Linked DNA regions of Homo sapiens. The protein of the gene in region 1 interacts with the protein of each later gene in a pairwise test. Each region holds a gene or a part of one and is shown on either strand. Other genes may lie near its edges.

Region 1 (3,500 bases):
CCCCATCCTACATTTTTGGTTCTATCCTCTAACATTTCCTTTTATACCCCCTGACCCTGGCGTTCCAGCCACATTGAACTTGCTGTCTTGAGGAGATGTCCTTGTCTCAGTGGCATTGCTCATACTTGGAATTGTTCTTTTCCACACCTCTCAGGCTCCAAATCTTCATCTTTTGAGTTCCTGTTCAAATGCTCCCATCTCTGTTGCAGGTCCCTGCAACCCCTGACTGTAACTCTCCTTAACTTCCATGATTCTTTCTCGGAGCTCTTGTCACATTCATTGCTTTATGCTTTTTGTTTTTTGGGTACATGATGTATTTAACTTCATGTTCTGAGTCCTAGGGAGTTCTTCCTAAGCACTTAGCAAATATGTGTTGTAGGCAATTAGTAGCTATATATGATCAGTAGACTCCACGGGGGAATAATAAGCGGATTAAGAGTTGACAGGTCCCTAGGGACTGAGAGTGCGGGGAAAGCACAGGCGTAAAGCAGGTGTCTTAACACTGGCTTTAGAAGATCTAGAAAACTAGTAACCAAGAGCTTTTAACATGGTTCTTGTTAAGATGTGAAGAGGTAAGATAACTAATTTGAGTGGCTATTGTATGCCAGTCACCGGTCTAGGTATTTTATGTATATTCACTCATTTGAACTCTGGCCAGATGACATTCTTCCCTTCTGTAATATTACCCCTTGACCTCTTTTTTTTTTTTTTTTTTTTTTTTTTTGGAGATGGAGTTTTCGCTTTTGTTGCCCAGGCTAGAGTGCAACGATGCAATCTCGGCTCACGGTAACCTCCGCCTCCCGGGTTCAAGCAATTCTCCTGCCTCAGCTTCCGGAGTAGCTGGGATTACAGGCATGCACCACCATGCCCGGCTAATTTTGTATTTTTAGTGGAGACGGGGTTTCTTCATGTTGGTCAGGCTCATCTTAAACTCCTGACTTATGGTGATCTGCCCGCCTTGGCCTCCCAAAGTGCTAGGATTACAGGCATGAGCCACTGTGCCCAGCCCCGTTGACTTCTTGTTACACTTAGAATAAAATACAAAGTCAGGTGGTGGCTCGCGCATTTAATCCCAGGACTTCGGGAGGCCGGGGCAGGAGGATCACTTGAGCCTGAGAGTTCAAGACCAGTCTGGGCAACATAGTGACACACCCCATCTCTAATTAAAAAAAACAAAACAAGACTCCATAAGTAGCCCTACGGGACCCCAGACTCACACTGTACGACTTCCTCACCTTTCCATCTTCTCTGACCAGCTCCTTACCTCTGCTCCCTCCTCTAAAGCTTTTTGCCCATGAATCCCAAATTTATGTTTTTTCATTTCAGCTTTAAAACCCTACCCTGTTATGATAACAATAATGGAGTACATTGCCCTTGTGTGGTTCTTCATACTTTTTTTTTTTTTTTTGAGATGGAGTTTCGCTCTTGTTGCCCAGGCTGGAGTGCAATGGTGCCATCTCAGCTCACTGCCATCTCCGCCCCCCACTGGGTTCAAGCGATTCTCCTGCCTTGGCCTCCGGAGCAGCTGGGATTACAGGCACACACTAACATGTCCAGCTAATTTTTCTATTTTTAGCAGAGATGGGGTTTCACCACGTTGGCCAAACTGGTCTCAAACTCCTGACCTCAGGTGATCCATCTGCCTCGGCCTCCTAAAGTGCTAGGATTACAGGCCACCATGCCCAGCTCTTCATAATTTTTCAAAGCACATTCTTCTTATTTCGTTTGATCCTATTTCAGTCCACAATTTTCCACATACCTTTTCTCAAAAATAAGAGTATAGAAGAGTTGGGTGCAGTGGCTCACACCTGTAATCCCAGCACTTTGGGAGTCTGAGGCAGGCGGATCACTTGAGACCAGCCTGGCTAATATGGTGAAACGCTGTCTCTAATAAAAATACAAAAAATTAGCCAGGTGTGGTGGCAGGTGTCTGTAATCGCAGCTACAGGCTCCTACTGAGGCGGGAGAATCACTTGAACCTGGGTGGTGGAGGTTGCGGTGAGCCGAGCTTGCGCCACTGCACTCCAGCCTGGGCGACAGTGCGAAACTCCATCTCAAAAAAAAAAAAAAAAAAGTATAGAGGGATTGAAATGCCAAGAAAACTTGACAGTTTATCAAATAACATCTTTGCCATAAATCTTAATGCCAGTTGTGGGACTGGCCTGTGGCTCCTTTAAGCCTTGGAGTTGTAACAGAAAGTTTTCTTCAGATAGTTTTGTTAATCACACTGTTTAAAATGTGCTATGAAATTTCTTGGATCTTTGGAGAGAAACAAGATACTGTTATAATAATTACTGTGGAGATGTCACTGGAAAGGGGATCCAGACCCCAAGAGAGGGTTCTTGGACCTCGTGCAAGAAATAATTCAGATTGAGTCCATAGAGTAAAGTGAGTGTAAGTTTATTAAGTAAAGAAACAAAAGAATGGTTACTCCATAGGCAGAGCAGTAGCTTGGACTGCTCGACTGATAATACTATAATTATTTATTCATTATATGCTAAACAAGGGGTGGATTATTCATGAGTTTTCCAGGAAAGGGGTGGGCAATTCCCGGAAATGAGAGTTCCTCCCCATTTCAGGCCATATAGGGTAACTACCTGACGTTGCCATGGCATTTGTAAATTGTCATGGCGCTGGTGGGAGTGTCTTTTAGCATGCATGCTAATGTATTATAACTAGTGCATAATGAGAAATAAGGACAGCCAGAGCTCACTTTTGTCACCATCTTGGTTTTGATGGGTTTTGGCCGGCGTCTTTACCATCACCTGTTTTATCGGCATGGTCTTTGCGACCTGTACCTTGCACCGACCTCCTATCTCATCCTGTGACTTAGAAGGCCTAACCTCCTGGAAGTGCAGCCCAGTGGGTCTTAGCCACATTTTACCAAGCCCCTGTTCATAATGGAGTCGCTTTGGTTCAGATGCCTTTGACGGAGAAGGTAACTTTTCACTATATATTCTTTGTACAGTTCAGGTGTTTGGTTAAACACATGCTTGTAGTATCTGTTTAAATTAGTTATATGTATATGTATACTCTGGGAAGTGGCTCTTCTCATTATTACAATTTTTTTCGAAAAGCAATCAGCTTTTATTTGACAATTTGGAAAATACAGGAAGAAAAAAAGTTATTCCGGCCAGGCACGGTGCCTCACGCCTATAATCCTAGCACTTTGGGAGGCCGAGGCGGGTGGATCACGAGATCAGGAGTTCAAGACCAGCCTGACCAAGACGGTGAAACCCCATCTCTACTAAAAATACAAAAATTAGCCGGGTGTGGTGGCAGGCACTTGTAACCCCAGCTACTCGAGAGGCTGAGGCAGGAGAATCGCTTGAACCTGGCAGGTGGAGGTTGTAGTGAGCCGAGATCGTGCCACTACACTCCAGCCTGGGTGACAGAGTGAGACTCCGTCTCAAAAAAAAAAGAAAAAAAGTTACTTCGAATCCTACAATAATCCTGAAATAACCAATTGGGATTGTCATTTAAAAATGAACTTTTTTTTT
Region 2 (4,170 bases), on another chromosome or scaffold:
CTTACCGGGGCTCACTCTTGGCCTCCTCATGCATCTCTCTACCTCTCCTGAAGCCTCCAATCCCACCACCGCCCCTTCCCACCCATTCACGAGTCCAGCTAGGGTCACCTTGCTTGCCTGCCTAAATAAGACCCAAACTCCTTTGTTGGGCACTAAGGTAGCGTTGCCAGGGTTCACAAATAAAAATACAGAATGCCCAGGTAAATTTGAATTTCAGATAAACAACTTTTTTTTTTTTAGGATAAGTATGTTCATGCAATATTTGCATTTCCAGTCTCAGTTATCAGTACCAAATATCATGCAGTATCTGGGAAGTAAGTATCCTATCCAGTTGGATTATCTGAAGTTCAAATGTTCGAGTTTAACTGGGCATCCTGTATTGTACCTGGCAACCCCACACTAAGCACTCCGTGTTCTGGCCCCAAGGTTAGACACCAGTGTTCTCCCCACAACTCCTCATATCATGACCCTCATATCAGTGCTCCTTGCACCCTGAATGCAGCAAACACTCCCTGGGCCCTGAGCCTAGGCTCAAGCTCTCCCCTTGGTCTGGGGATCTACTTCCCCTCCCCTCTACTCCACCTGTCCCCTCTCCTTGCTGGTCCAAATACCAGCTGAGGCTCAGCTCAAAGCCACCTCCTCCCAGAAGACGTCTATGATCAGCTCAGAGCTCAGCAGCTGAGATCTCTACCTTCTTAGAGCCCACCAGTCCCTTTCCGCCCTGCTCATGGCATTCACCACAGGCGGCCTTGGGCTGTCATTAAACGAACACTGGTCTCATTCTTGCCATCCTCTTCCCCTCTCAGTCCCCACAAGACTGCAGACTCCTTGAGGGACCTCACAATCTTCTTCTGCATCTCCCCTGCGGCATCACACCCAGTGCCAGAATAGAGGGAGTATGCCGAACATACTGGGTGGATGTCTGACTGGAGGAATGATCACATCTGATCTCCTCAAAGCAGAGTATGTCTCAGTCCCAGAGAGCAAACACATCCTCATCCTGGTCTGCTTCTAGATTCCCAGTGGGAATGTCAGATGGTTGGAGATCCCTGGAAGGTGGGCTGCCTAACTTGTCATCCATTGTTGGAGGATGCCTTGGAGACAAGATGTCTCTTCAGCATCGTAAAGCCAGTTGCACCGGCACCTGCTCTGCTCCAGGCAAGCAGGTAGAGCAATGCTCAGGCCCAGAGGGGAGGGACCCTAAGCTTTCCTCCAGTAATAGCCCTAAATGTGTCACCGCTGATACCACTCAGGAAAGGGAAAAGAGGAAGAACAGAGACCCAAGAAGTCCGGAGAGCTTGGGCGAGGGTAGTGGGGGCAGACAAGTGGGCAGGACCAGAGGCAGGGAGGGCCCAGTTACCTCTTATTTCAGGGAAGCAGTGCCTGCACCAAAACCACGCCACTGCTCGTTACTAACAGAAGGCCCCTGACGGGCTTTGGCCCACAGCTTCTCCAACCCACCAAGCATCCACACTTGTTACCGTGCAATAGTTTCAAAAGGGCTCATGATGGGAAAAAAATGTGGTGACACTTTTTACTAAAGGATTCTCAAAGCAAAATGCTCAAATAACCAAGTAAACTACTCAAGCAAGGCCCTTTTGAGGCCATCGCCCTATCCCATGGGCCCCATCGGACTGCACGGTGTGACTCAGTTTGGATTTGCTCAGTGCTTTCACAGATCCCAGCTGAAGCTCACACCCCTATGAGGCAGCCGTCATCATCCCTGGTTGACTGATGAGGAAATGAGGCTTAGAGAGGCAGTGACTTACCCAGTGATGCTCAGCTAATAAGGGGCACAGCTGGGATTCCACCAAATATTCTCACTTCCAAGCCAGGGCAATTCCAGGCCACCTCAACACCATCATTGAGGTCAATCGTCATCACTCTTGAGCAGAAGGAGGGGGCCCACAGTACTATTGGTGGGGAAGCGGGACCCAGAGCAAGTTGATAGTTCTGGGAGAAGCCAGTGGGGCAGGCAGAGAGGCTCCTGGTCTCCCAGTCAACTCCCATTCAAGCAACCTGGCAACCTGGCCCCCGACTTGTGCTAGCTGTTCTCTCCTGCCTCAGCTTCCTCCTCAAAGACCCAGAGTTTGTGGTGGATTAAACTAGAGAAGAGAATGCCCCGTGCCTGGGACACAGCCAGACACCCACGAACTGCACAATAAACATAGCCCCCTACCTCTTTCCTGATATGGAACTGAACTTCATAGGATTTGCTTTATATTTCTCCCTGTCCCAGGAACTCCCATGTTACAGAGGCTTTTTTACCTCAGTGACGATGGAAGAGCCGGGCGTGTCATACACCCAGCCATCCTGGCAGGGACCCAGCGGCAGGTGGCTCCTGTTGGTGGCCAGGCTAGCCAGGGGGTCTACACAGCTGAGGGCGCTCTGGTTCCAGTCCACTTCATAGCGCCTGCACTGGCCAAGGAAGGCCTCGCCCGCGGGCCCCAGGCCTGGCACTGTATAGTTCAGCTCCTCCGCAGGGCTCCAGCCACAGCGCTGGCTCAGCTCAGCCACCCCAGGACTCTGGCAGTGGTGGTCAGGTGTGAAACCCAGGAAGACGATGCCCACACAGATGGGCGCAAAGGCAGCCGACAGCAGGCATAAGATGAGGAAGGCTTGCTTCTGGAACCAGCCAGACTCCCCAACCTGCTCCAGAATGTCATCCACGGTGGGCATGATGGCTCAGCATGCTCATGGCCGTGGCCAGACCTGCTCTGGGCTGCAGTGGCCAGGTGCAATGTCTCCCTCAGAGATCTTTGAAAAGGAGTGGTTTGAAATCAGTTTGCTGTCCAAGTGTGAAACATCTGGAAGGCAACCAAGTAGAAATAATCTTTTACCCTATGGTGCTGGTTTCAGGAAAAGGAAGAATGCACGTGGCCATCTGATCAAATCGTTTGCTTTGCCCGGGAGCGAGTCAGTGGGGTCTAAGCCCGAAGAGAATTGAAGTTCAGCCACAGAGCAAGAAGAGGGCAGGAGAGCAGGCCGTGCAAACCTCCTAGTAGCTCCCTCAGGGCTCTTCCAAAAAGAATATCTACTTGTTTTCTAGATGTGATGGTATGAGGCAAGTATTGGGTGACAGCCAGGTACTAGATACTGTATTCGGCTAATTAGTTCTGTGATACCATTTAAGTATTTTTTTTAGTTTTTTTTTCCCATAGGTTTTGAGGGAACAGGTATTATTTGGTTACATGAGCAGGTTCTTTAGTGGTGATTTGTGAGATTTTGGTGCATCCATCTCCCAAGCAGTATACACTGCACCCAATTTGGGTGTTTTAAGCTCCACCTCTTCATTTGTGTGTGTGTATACATGTCTAGATGTGTTTACTTGTATGTACACTTACTGTTATATGTTGTGTCTACCAAATTGGCTTATAAGTAAAAGAGTGTTCATAAATTAAGTAAATAAGTCTAAGCAATTTTCAAATTCACTTAAGTATGACTTTGCTAAATAGGCTGTCTTTTAAATTATCAGTAAAATGAAAATAGAAATGTCTTCAAAATATAGACATGGTCTAAATTATGCAAGTCAGAAACTAGGTTGACTAAATGCTTTAAGGTCATAAACTGCTTTGGCTTTTGAAAATTGTTCAACTTTCCTGCTTTGCAGTTTGGTAGGGCCTGCCCTAGCTATGCTGGAAATAGTTAGACCTCATCTGCACCTAAGTACGTAACTAAAATAACTTACTGGGTATTTCACCAAAATTAACAATTACTAAGAGCTACCATTATAACATGTAGTGATGACTACTGAAAACAGATCTACACGTGAGGTGAGTAAGGAGAGTAAAATGTATCATTAGTAAAATAATATAAGAAGGCATGGGAATGTAAATTTTTGCCTAGTTCAGAGGGTTAAATGATTGTTTTAAATTATATAAGATAAAGCTTAAGGTTCAAACAAGTTATGGAAGGTTTGTAAAAAATTAATCTTGTAAAAGGAATCCTGTGTGTAAACATATTGACTACACTAAAAAGGATATTATTTGGTTTTCCATAAGTTGAACAATGGAATACAAGCACAACAAGGTTTTCTTGAAGCACTTACATGCTGTTTAACAAAAAAAATTTGTAAAAGGTTATAAAAGATTTATAACAATCTCAGTTCATGATCAAACTGATTAAGATTGGATGGATTTCTCTGTAAGGTTTTATTTTTTTTAATTGGGG

What was found. Proteins that work in one complex are often made in the same cells at the same time.
Region 2: the proteins of LAPTM4B (region 1) and SLC22A1 interact in a protein complementation assay, tested with the Homo sapiens proteins (one large-scale study listed by BioGRID).

What each region holds. Positions count from the first base shown.
Region 1 is NC_000008.11:97,799,788-97,803,287, forward strand, and holds part of LAPTM4B (lysosomal-associated transmembrane protein 4B), read left to right. Parts: intron 1-3,500. UniProt on the Homo sapiens protein: Required for optimal lysosomal function. Blocks EGF-stimulated EGFR intraluminal sorting and degradation.
Region 2 is NC_000006.12:160,120,445-160,124,614, reverse strand, and holds the start of SLC22A1 (solute carrier family 22 member 1), read right to left. Parts: upstream 2,801-4,170; 5' UTR 2,680-2,800; coding exon 2,269-2,679; intron 1-2,268. UniProt on the Homo sapiens protein: Electrogenic voltage-dependent transporter that mediates the transport of a variety of organic cations such as endogenous bioactive amines, cationic drugs and xenobiotics. Functions as a pH- and Na(+)-independent, bidirectional transporter.